Regions from separate parts of the Homo sapiens genome. Here region 1 is linked to region 2. The links come from fine-mapping of genetic effects on gene expression. A gene starts in region 2. The other region holds a variant in brackets. All regions are shown on one strand. Distances are from middle to middle. Region 1 overlaps C1QTNF7-AS1 (C1QTNF7 antisense RNA 1). Region 2 holds the start of CPEB2 (cytoplasmic polyadenylation element binding protein 2).

Region 1 (5,372 bases), 76 kb before region 2:
TCCAAAAAAGTGCCAACATGGTGAAACACTGTCTCTACTAAAAATACAAAAATTAGCTAAGCGTGGTGGTGCATGTCTGTAATCCCAGCTACTTGGGAGGCTGAGGCAGGAGAATCACTTGAGCCTGGGAGGCAGAGGTTGCAGTGAGCCGAGATCGGCACTTTAGCCTGGGTGACACAGAGTGAGTTAGACACTGTCTCTAAGAAAACATAAAAAAACCCCAAAAAAGTGCATTATAGGAGTAATTACTTCGATGGGAAGAAGAAATAAGGTACTGAAGTTTTTCAGACTTCCAATAACAAAGTTGTTTTTCCCCTGTAGGAATTTTATTAATGAGTATTTTTTAACTAAAAACATATAGCTATAAAAATGAAACATAACTGAACAAATATGGCATTTGATTCCACCTAGCTTTTCTCTCAAAAACAATCTCTTTCCTTTTTCTGTCACTACTAGCTGTTGTTATACATTCTTACCATCTGTTTTTATCTACTTAGCAATTGTCTATCAAAAATTTCTGCTCTGCATGAGGCATTGTTCTAAATGTTGGGGCTGTCATAGTGACTAAGAAGGGTAAGAATTCTGACTTCAAGAATCTTCCCATCTTCCAATCTAGTGGGAGTGACAGACATGATACATGTAAGCAACCAAATCAATACAATAATTATAGATTTTGATATGTGATAAAGGAACTAGGTAAGACACCGAGAGGGAAGTTAACAGGAAGGGCTCGCTTCAGAATGCATGGACAGGAAAGGCCTCATGAAATCTGAGATCTGAAGACAGAGAAGACCTGGGGGAAGAGCATTCCAAGCAGAGGGAACAGCTAATGCAAAGTCCTTGAGGAGGAAAGAGTTTGCTATGGTCTTGGAAAGTTCAGGGACACCCAAACGAAACAACTGTGCTGCATGTGAAGCAGCATTTTTCTTCATGACTAAACTGCTCAATGGTTCATTTTAATCAATAGCAGATTACGTAATGCAAAATAAGTCTCCAAATTAATATACTGCATTGTGTCTAATTCAGATCGTGAAAAGTCACTCTGTAGGAGAAATGCCTGCACCACTTTGAGTAACGACATCATTGCGAGCCACCAAAATTTTAGTTTCTCAGGCAGCATGATGACATTTCAAAAAGTTCAGTGGAGTGGCTTCTCATGGTCTGGGGGGAAGGCAAGCACTGGACAAAGACTCTGGGGCTCCCATTTTGGCTCATCCACCAAACAGCCTTGGAACTTCAAACCAGTCATTCTCCCTTCTTGGAACTCAGTTTCCTTCTCATCTGAAATAATTGATAAAGTCACTTTAAATAAGTAAGGGCTATGGTTTATTTCCTGTAGAATGGTTAATGATTTACATGTCATCATCAGTATAATTTGAACAAGGGGAAAAAAGAAAGAAATAGAAAGGAAGAAATAAAAAGAGAAAAACTAAAGAAAAGAAAAAGGAAGAAAAATAATGAAGATCTTGCACATGAATGAGGAAATGCTTAATAAATGGCATATAGTAATCATAACTTTTTAAAAACAGAAGTTTCTATGTCAAATATATGGCAGGGCTACCTGTTTAGCTGCTGGTTCCATCCCTGTCCGACAATTCCTAGTGGTGAAAGCCTATAATCTGAACCTGACTCTTCTGATAGCAATAATAATTCTCAATTCAGCCCAGGAACACCACATGTAATTACTGAATTCTAAAGATGGTCTCCCAAGATTCCCATTTCTTATTTTTCAATTGAGCACTGATCTAGGTACTGCTATGAGGAAATTTTGCAGCTGTAATTAAAGCTACATGTCAGTTGATCCTATAATACAGAGATTATCCAGTGGGCCTGACTCAATCAGCTGAGCCGTTTAAAAGCAAAATTTTCGCTGGCTGGTTGCAGAACAGAAAGTTTCCAAACTTGAGAAAAATTCAACACATTTTTTGCTGGCTTTGAAGGAGGAAGCAACGTTAGCAGGAGTGTGGTCAGTCCTAGGAGATGAGAGTGGCCCCTTGCCACCAGACAGCAAAGAAACAGACATCTCAAAAGCACAAATGCAAGAAACAGTATTCTGCTGAAATTTGAATGCTCTTGGAAGTACCTTATTTCCCACAGTCTTCAGGCAAGAGTCCAATCCAGCCGTCATCTTTATTTTGGCCACGTGACGTCCTTAGCAGAGAACCCTGTCATGTTCCCCCAGACCTCTGACCTACACAATTGTGAGCTAGTAAATGCGTTTTGTTTTAAGTTACTAAATTTGTGGTAGTTTGTTACACAGCAACAGAAAATGAATACATCAAATATTTGAAGAAAGCAATATGAAAGAAAGACACCAAACTCAACTAACATCCAAAGAAACACTTAATTTAACAAGTAGGATGTTTTCTTTAAAAAAAACCCTATAATTTCTCCAGTAATTTAAAAAATTGTGGTAAGAACATTTAACATATCTATCTTCTTGACAAATTTTTAAGTGTACAATGCAATATTGTTCAATACAGTCATGATATTGCACAACAGATTTCTAGAACTTACTCATTCACCTTGCATGACTAAAACTTTATACTCACTGCCCAGCAACTCCCCATTTTCCACTTTCCCCAAACTCTGGAGACCACCCTTCTACTCTTTGCCCCTATGACTATTTTTGGAAATTCATATAAATATTTGTTCTTTTGTGACTGACTTATTTCATGTAGCACGGTGTCCTCAAGATTCATCATGTTGTCACATTTGGCAGGATTTCTTTCTTTTTTGAGGCTGAATAACATTCCATTGTATATATATACCACATTTTGTTTGAAGAGTCTTTGACTTTGGTATTAGGGTAATACTGGCCTCATAAAATAAGTTTAAAAGCTTCCCCTCCTCTTGAAGTTTTTGGAAGAGTTTAAGAAGGATTGGCATTAATTTTTTAATAATTGAATAATATTTTTTATTATCATGTCTTCTCATTCCTAGGAATTTAAGTGATAAAAATCAGAACAGAATCTGAAATAGTCACACTACAAAATCGGTTAGATTTCTCTTGGGATACCACCACATGTGCTCATAAGTGGGATCTAAATGAGGAGAAAATAGACACTTAGAGGGGAACAACATACACTGGTGCCCTTTGGAGGGTGGAGGATGGGAGGAGGAAAAGGATCAGGAAAAATAACAAATGGGGTACTAGGCTTAATATGTGGGTGATGAAATCATCTCTACAACAAACCACAATGACGCAAGTTTACGTTATGTAACAAACCTTGTTTGTACAAGGTTTGTATCCCTGAACTTAAAAGTTACAAAAAAAGGGTCAAAAATTAT[A/G]AAAAGAATTGCATAATCCTAAGTCATCTATTTATTTAAAAGTGTTTGGTGTAACTCACCAGTGAAGCCATCTTATTCAATTTCCTTACTAATTATAGATCTGTTCAGGTTTTTAATTTCTTCATAATCCAATCTTAGTAGGTTGTATGTTTCTAGTAATTTATCTGTTTATTCTAGGTTATACAATTCGTTCGTGTATAAGTGTTCATAGTAGCCTCTTTTGATCCTATTTCCATGGCATCAGGTAAAATGTTTCCTCTTTCATTTCTGATTTTTTTAATTTAAGTCTTCTCTCTCTCTCTTTTTTTTTTTTTCAATTCTAGCTATGGGTTTGTCAATTTTGTTGATCTTTTTCAAAATCCTACTCTTAGTTTTATTTTTTTTAATTGGTTTTCTGTTTTCTATTGTGTTCATTTCTGCTTTAATCTTTCTTTCTTTCTTTTTTCTAACTTTGGGCTTAGATTGTTCTTTTTCTACTTTCTTGAGGTACAAAGCTATGCTGTTTATTTGAGTTCTTTCTTATTTCAATGTAGGTGCTTATTGCTGCATAATTTCCTTTTCCTGATTTTGTTACAGTCCAAAGGACTTGGTATGTTGTGTTTCCATTTCCAGTTTTCTCAAGATATTCTCAAATTTCCCTTCTGATTTTTTATTTGATTCACTGGCTGTTCAGGAGTGTCTTGTTTAATTTACATATTTGTGAATTTTCCAGTTTTCTTTAGTTATTGATTTCTAGTTTCATTTCATTGTGGTCAGAAAAAAATACTTAGTATGAGATCAGTCTTCTTAAATTTGTTAAGATTTGCTGTGTGACCTAACATGTAATTAATTCAGCACTTGAAAAAAATGTGTATTCTTCTGCTGTTTGGTGGAATATTCCATATATGTCTCTTGGATTCATTTGGTCTACAGTATTGTTTATGTCCTCTGTTTCTTCATTGATTTTCCATATGGAACTTCTATTCATTGTTAAATGTTAGGTATTAAAGTATCCTACTATTGCTGTTTTTCCCTTAGTTCTGTCAATGTTTGCTTCATATATTTAGATACTTCTAATGTTGGATGAATACATATTTAAAATTGTTACATTTTCCTTAATAATTATTTTATCATTATATAATGACCTTTTGTGACAGCTTTGTCTCAAAGTCTATTTTGTCTAGCATAAGCATAGGCATGCTACTCTCTTTTGGTTACAATTTGCATGGAATGTTTTTCCATCTCTTCACTTTCAGTTTGTATATGTTCTTAAATCTAAAGTCAGTCTCCTGTAAACAGCATATAATAAGTTCCTATATTTTATTAATTTTATTTTTATCCATGCAGCCATTTATAATTGGAGAATTTAATTCATTTACCTTTAAAGTGATTGTTCATAGGGAAGAACTTACTATTGCCATTTTCTAGTTTTCTGTCTTTTGGTTCTTGTGTTCTTTTCCTTTCTTGCTGTTTTCCTTTGTTGATTTTTTTTTTGTATTGATATGCTTTGATTCTTTTTTACTTACTTTTTTAAATTTACTTTTTACTTTCTTTTGTGCATATTTTATAGGTGTTTTCTTTGTGGTTACATGGGGCTTACAGAAAACATCTTATGGTTATAATAGTCTATTTCAGGCTAGTATCAACTCCATACAGAAACTCTACACTGTTACTTTTCTTCTCCCCACACTTTGTTCTTGATATTACAATTTATATCTTTTAAAATTGTTTATTCATTAACATATTTTATAGTTATAGTTATTTTTACTGTTTTTGCCTTTTTAACCTCTAAACAAACTAAAACTTATTTACCTATCATATTACATGTCATGGTATTTTCAATCTGTATATATATTTACCTTTACCATGAAGTTATATAGTTTCATATGCTTTTTAATAGATGTTAAGCATTCTTCCTCTTCAACTTGAAGAATTCCCTTTAACATTTTCTGTAAGGCACATCTATTGGTGAAGAATTCCTTCAGATTTTGTTTGTCTGGGAAAGTCTTTATCATGCCTTCATTTCTGAAGAACAGGTTTTGCTGGTTATAGTATTCTTGGATGACAGTTTCATTCTCAGCACTTTTAATATATCATCTCAC
Region 2 (5,372 bases):
TGAACCCGAGCGGTCACTAACAGTTTCTCTTTCCCAGTCCTGTGACAGCCAAGGAGGCGGCCCCGCGGGAACCAGGTCCTGCGAGGAGGGCGGTCGGCCGCTCCCTCCCGACTCCCTCCTGGGCCGGCGGCCCAGGGTGCGGCGCTGCCAGCAGGTTGATCGGGCGGAGCTTTGGGAGCGGCTCGACTGACCGCCCGAGGGGCTGAGGCTTCAAGGCGAGATCACCGCCGGCCAAATAAGAATAAACAAACTCCAAAGAAAAAAAAAAGCCTTTCCGCCTTCCCTCATTGGACAGCGAGACAGAGTCTTGGGCTCCTCCGCACGCACCTTCTCCAGCAATCATTTTTCCCCTGCCCAAGTTCACTTCCCACGGCCGCTCTTCCGAGGCCCCCGGCCAGCCCCCGGTCCTCGCCGCGCCTCCCCGCGTCGGGGGTCCGGGGCGGCGGCCCTCCAGGCCCAGGGCACAGGGCGGATCCCGGGGTGCGCCAGCTAGGAGGGCCGGGTTGAGACGCCGCGCCCGGCCGCCCGCGGCCCCGGCGCTATTCGGCCCCTGCCCCAGTCCCCACTGCTGCGCCGGGACGTTCGAGGGGGCGCCCGGCCAGCCGCGGCTCCCAGCGCGAACTCGTCTCCCACGCCCCCACAGCCCACGGTGGCCACTGCCCTCCCAACCCACCGGGGGCTGGGGTTCCGAGTCCTGTCACGGTTGTCCGCCCTCAGTTCCACTCTCACTTGGGCGAGTGGCCCCCGTCGCGGCTTCTCTCGGGGCTAAGGTCGGGTCCCCGGCTGCCCTGCCCCCGCCTCCGTCCCCCGCCCATGGTCTCCCGGTCCCGCGGCGCGGCCAGGCCGCCGCCCGCCGTACCTGGTGGTGGTTATAGGAGTTCCTCTGCTGCAGGAAGGCGGCGGCCGCCGCCTGGTGCTGCTGCTGGAGCTGCGGGCTGACGGGCGACCTCCGGCTCTGCGGCTGCTGCGGCGCCGCGGGCGGCGGGGGCTGCTGTTGAGGTATATTCATGGCGGGCGGCGGCGGAGGGGGCACAGCGGTAGCCGAGAAGGGGCCGCCGAAGCCGCCGCCGCCGCCGCCGCTCGTCGGAACGCTGAGCCCAGTGCAGCCGTGCGGCGACACGGGCGAGAAGCTAGGGAAGAAGGCCGGGTTCATGGACGACGGCAGCCCGGGGTAGAAGCCGTTCTCTGAGTCGGGGCTGGGCGGCGGCATGGCGCTGAGCGAGCCGCCGCTGCCGCCGCCCGGGGTGGTGGCAGACGAGCCGGGCGGCTGCGGCTGCGGCTGGGGCGGCTGCTGGGGTGGCGGCGGCTGCTGCTGCGGCTGGGTCGGCGGCGGCTGCTGGGGCTGGGGTGGCGGCGACGCGGTCTGCACCGACCAGGGGGTGCCGAAGCCGGGCAGCGGCGGCGGCGACGCGGAGCCGCCTCCCCCTCCGCCTCCTGGGGGCCCCCCGCCCCCGCCGCCGCCGCCGCCGCCCGGGTGTGGAAGGTCCGGGCTCTGCAGGCTGCTGAAGGCGCCCGCGCCAAGCGCACCTCCGGGCAGGAGGTTACTGGGACTGTTGAGCAGAGGGTGGTTGGGGGACTCCATGGAGCCCGGCGCGGGGTTCACCGGCGTCGAGGAGGCCAAGCCCGCATTGGGGGACTCGGCGGCGCTGCCCTCGCCCGCGGCTGGGGTCTTGCGAGGGCTGCCCGCGCCTCCGTGGCGGCGCCGCGGGGCTGCAGGCGGCGAGGGAGGGAGCTGCGGGAGCGGGGGCAGGTCTGCCGGACGCTGCCGCGGGGCGAAGTCCTGCGGCGAGAGGTGCTGCTGATGCAGGAGGCTGAACTGCTGCGGCGGCTGTTGCTGCTGGCGCTGAGCGAGCTGCGCCGGCTGGAGGAGCGGGCCGGCTGGCGGCGGCGGCGGGCTGAACCGACCGGGGCAGTGGAGCGGCGGAGGCGGCGGCGGCGGCTTCGAGTCCGGAGGGTGGGGAAGGTGGGGAGGGCTGAACTCTTTCCTCTTCTGGCTGCTCAGCTGCTGCTGCTGCCGCTTACTGAAGTCCTGCGGGGAGGAGGTGCGGCAGCAGCAGCAGGAGGAGGCGGAGGAGGAGGAGGGGTGGTGCAGACTCGGTTTGAAGTCCTGGGAGGGGAGGAGGTGGGTCACACCCGCGATCGTGCCGCCGCCGGGGTGGTGGTCGGGGAGTTTCTCCGTGGCCGCCGCCCCCGAAAGCGGCCGCGCCGGCTGCTGTGTCAGCCCCAGAAGCAGCTCATCCTGCATGGTCTGCTGATGCGCCAGGAACGGGGAGGAAGAGGAAGCGGCGGCGGCCGGGCTGCCCGCGCCGCCGCCGAGGGGGACGGAGAAGGGGGAGGCGGCCTCTAAGAAGCCGGTGACAGGCAACGGTGGTGGCGACAGTGGGCCGAAGGGCGTGGCGGAGGGCAGCGGGTTGACGGACCCCACGGCGTAAGGACCATACGCCTCGCCGCAGAACAGGGGCCCAGGACTGCTACTTCGGAGCGGGGCGGTCTGCAGCACCCCAAACCCGAAATCCCTCATTTATCAGGCCGCCGGCAGCGGGAGGAGACGCTCCTCGTCCCCTGCCCCACCTAGGAAGCCGCCGGCGCTGGGGTTGCGCGGCCGTGGTGGAAGGAGGGGGAGTCAGTGAGAGAGGGACACCGTGACTGAGCCAGGGGGCACCGACTTCGGCCCCACCACCCCTCGCGGCGATCGCCGCCGCCGCCGCCGTCGCAGTCGCCGTAGCCGCCCTGGCCGCTTAAGAACCCCGGAACGTGCGTCAGCGCCACCTCACAATCGCGCCGCCCCCCGCGGTGCGTCCCGGCACGCGCGGGCGCGAGGCCACCGCGTCCCCGTCGCCCCTCCCCGCCCCTCATTACTATGCAGACGCAGCCGAGGGCGCGCTCGCGCTCCCGGGAGGGCGGGAGCGAGCGGCGTGTCCCGTTGGGTCTCTCCGCTCCCGGGGAAATGGACAGGCCGGTTGGGGTGGGGGTCGGCTGGCAAACAGTGGTCGGGAGCATTGGGCGGGCGCGCGCACGAGGGCAAGCACGCGCGGGAGGGAGGGACGGTTCCTGGGCAACGGCCCCTCCTTGGCGCGGGATCCGCGCAGAGTCTGCCTGGGTCGCACGCGTCTCCGCCCCTCGCGGTGCCTCCTCCTTCCTGTCACCTCGGTTCCGCCCTGGGTGGGGAGAAGCCCTGCTGCACCACTCGGGCTTCCCAGAGCGGGGCTGGCCCGCGGGGGAAACTGAGGCCCGGGACCCCGACCGGCGCCTGCACTGTGCGACCCGCGTAGAAATAGGCGCCCGAGGGGCCCCCAGCGCAACGCGGGAGCCCGGCCCAGCCCGGGGGTCCTGTGGTGAACTAGCGTCTGGGCTCTGCCGGCTTGAAGTCCGCTGAGCGCCTCGCCGCGCACCTCTAGACCCCGAGTCCCCGATCTAGGGCCTCCTTGTAGCCCTAGGTAGCGCCCTCTAAGCTTGTTTCTGTTTTTAGGCGCTGGTAGGAGTGCTGTCACCGACGTCGTAGAGCCGCCGAGGGTGTTTCTGTAGGGTAAACATGAAGCCTCGGCTATATTCCAGGCATTTTCACTTGGGTAAGAAGGAACAAAGTCCCTGGAACAAACACGCTCCGCGTGGTTATTTACACACTCGGATGCGTGGAACGGGTTCCACGGCGAGCTCCCATAGTAACCCCGGGCCAGCTCCGCTTCATAAAAGCCTTTCGTGTGCCATCAGGGCTGCAGCGTGGGACTCCTCCCCACCACATTCATTCCGGCGTCCCCGCCCCTTCCCCCCAGGGAGACTCTAATTTATTCCTAAGCTTTATGAATTTTCAAGGGAGAAATAGTTCTTACATCAGGGAAAAAAGGAGGTTCTGACTCAGCAGCAGACTTGTTGAGACTTGCAAAATGGAAGGGAGAGAGCTTTCCATGGTAGAGCTCTTTAGAAGCATTAGAGGAGGAACTAATCCTGTGTTTCCTTTTGTATAGAAACATTTTACATAAAGTATTTGAAGGTCTAGATAAAGAATAACAGAGTGATCCATACTACATGATGAGGTGAACTTTATGTTTCTGTTTTGTAATTTTAACTGTTTTGCTTGATGCTTAGAGAAATGAAACTATTAAATGAATCCTAGAATATAGACTCAAACCCCCAAAGCAATAGAAGGTGGATTCAGACTTTACTTGATTTTGGTTTACAAGTGAACTAAGATTAAATATTTAATTTTATAAATTAGCATACTCTTACTGATGTAGGCAGAGTGTACATTTTTATAAGTCCTCATTCTCTATTTGAATTCTACTTCTGTTCAGTGTCTCAAATTTATATAAATCGAAATAAACATGGTAGAAAGAGAGCAACATTGCCCCAGGGAACTATACTTCATGTATAATGTTTATCTCTGCTATCCTGTCCAATGAACCAAGTTTTATGTTGCCTTTACAATAAGGAAAAAGTACTTTTTAAAAAACTCAAATGGTTCAGAATTTGGTCAGGTGAATAGAAAATTGGTTCAACTTATTAATCTCAAAATCATTTTTAACAGTCAGGCAAAATGTAGAACTGGAGAAGTATTTTTATTCTAAATTACAATGTCTAGAAAATAACCTGAGCTCAGAATTTAAAATATAAATGGTTATTTTCAGAGTATATATTGACATATTAAATATTCATTTTTTAAAAGGTATTGTGCAGGAAAAAAAACTACTTCTGCAACTAAGGAATGTAAAGTCTTAACAACGGATGATTTTTTTCCAAGTACAGTTGTATTTGATTGGAATCATTTGCAGATCCAACAACAAATCTTGAAATAGGGGGAAAATACAGGTATAAACCTTAGCTCAATTATCCACTAACACCGCAGTTAGTAAAGAGGAGAGAGCACATACTTTTAAAAGCTAACTGGTGCCTTTCTGGGCTAGAGTTTTGAACAAAAACAAGATTTCTTAGTGCTCTGGTACTAGTTTTGTCTTAGAGGATTTAGAGCTCTCTGAAACGGGGAAAAGCCATCAAGTTTGTTATTACATAATAATGTCAAACTTCATATTAAATACACCAAATTCCAAATCCTGCCAGGGCCTCTACTCACTACTTTTGTGAGGGCCCCATTTTTTTAGAGCAGAAAGTTACTTTCTGACATCTTGTAAGCTGGTGATCTTGCCCTTATTGAAAATATTCAAATGAAAAGGTTTCCTAGGGTGGAGAGTGGAGTGGGGTAGGGAGAAGGAGCAGCAAATACTGAGGAGGGACTATGGTCCTCTAGCAGTTTCCATGCCAAGATCTTATGAGTCCATTCAATGATTTTTTTGGTTTTTTACATGAAAATATTTTGACTCATGATCATTAACTAGGACCTTGACTTTGTATTTGACAGTCCCTTATTCATTTACTCC

What was found.
Region 1: its variant is fine-mapped to the expression of CPEB2 in whole blood (TOPMed, PIP above 0.99).

What each region holds. Positions count from the first base shown.
Region 1 is chr4:15,076,018-15,081,389 of GRCh38, reverse strand. All of the region lies in intron 2 of C1QTNF7-AS1 (C1QTNF7 antisense RNA 1), which reads left to right. Among named protein-coding and RNA genes, the nearest start is that of CPEB2, 76 kb to the right of the region's middle. The variant A/G (reference allele first, on the strand shown) is at 3,292.
Region 2 is chr4:14,999,823-15,005,194 of GRCh38, reverse strand. CPEB2 (cytoplasmic polyadenylation element binding protein 2) reads right to left here and starts at 2,714. Exons shown (of 12, transcript NM_001177382.2): 1 at 860-2,714. The coding sequence starts at 2,521. CPEB2-DT (CPEB2 divergent transcript) reads left to right here and starts at 3,150. Exons shown (of 8, transcript NR_038857.1): 1 at 3,150-3,257; 2 at 3,470-3,569; 3 at 3,966-4,034. C1QTNF7-AS1 (C1QTNF7 antisense RNA 1) reads left to right here. Exons shown (of 6, transcript NR_125911.1): 6 at 38-253. RefSeq lists enhancers at 268-834, 3,676-3,725 and silencers at 276-875, 1,256-1,465, 1,566-1,715, 1,766-2,075, 2,576-3,435.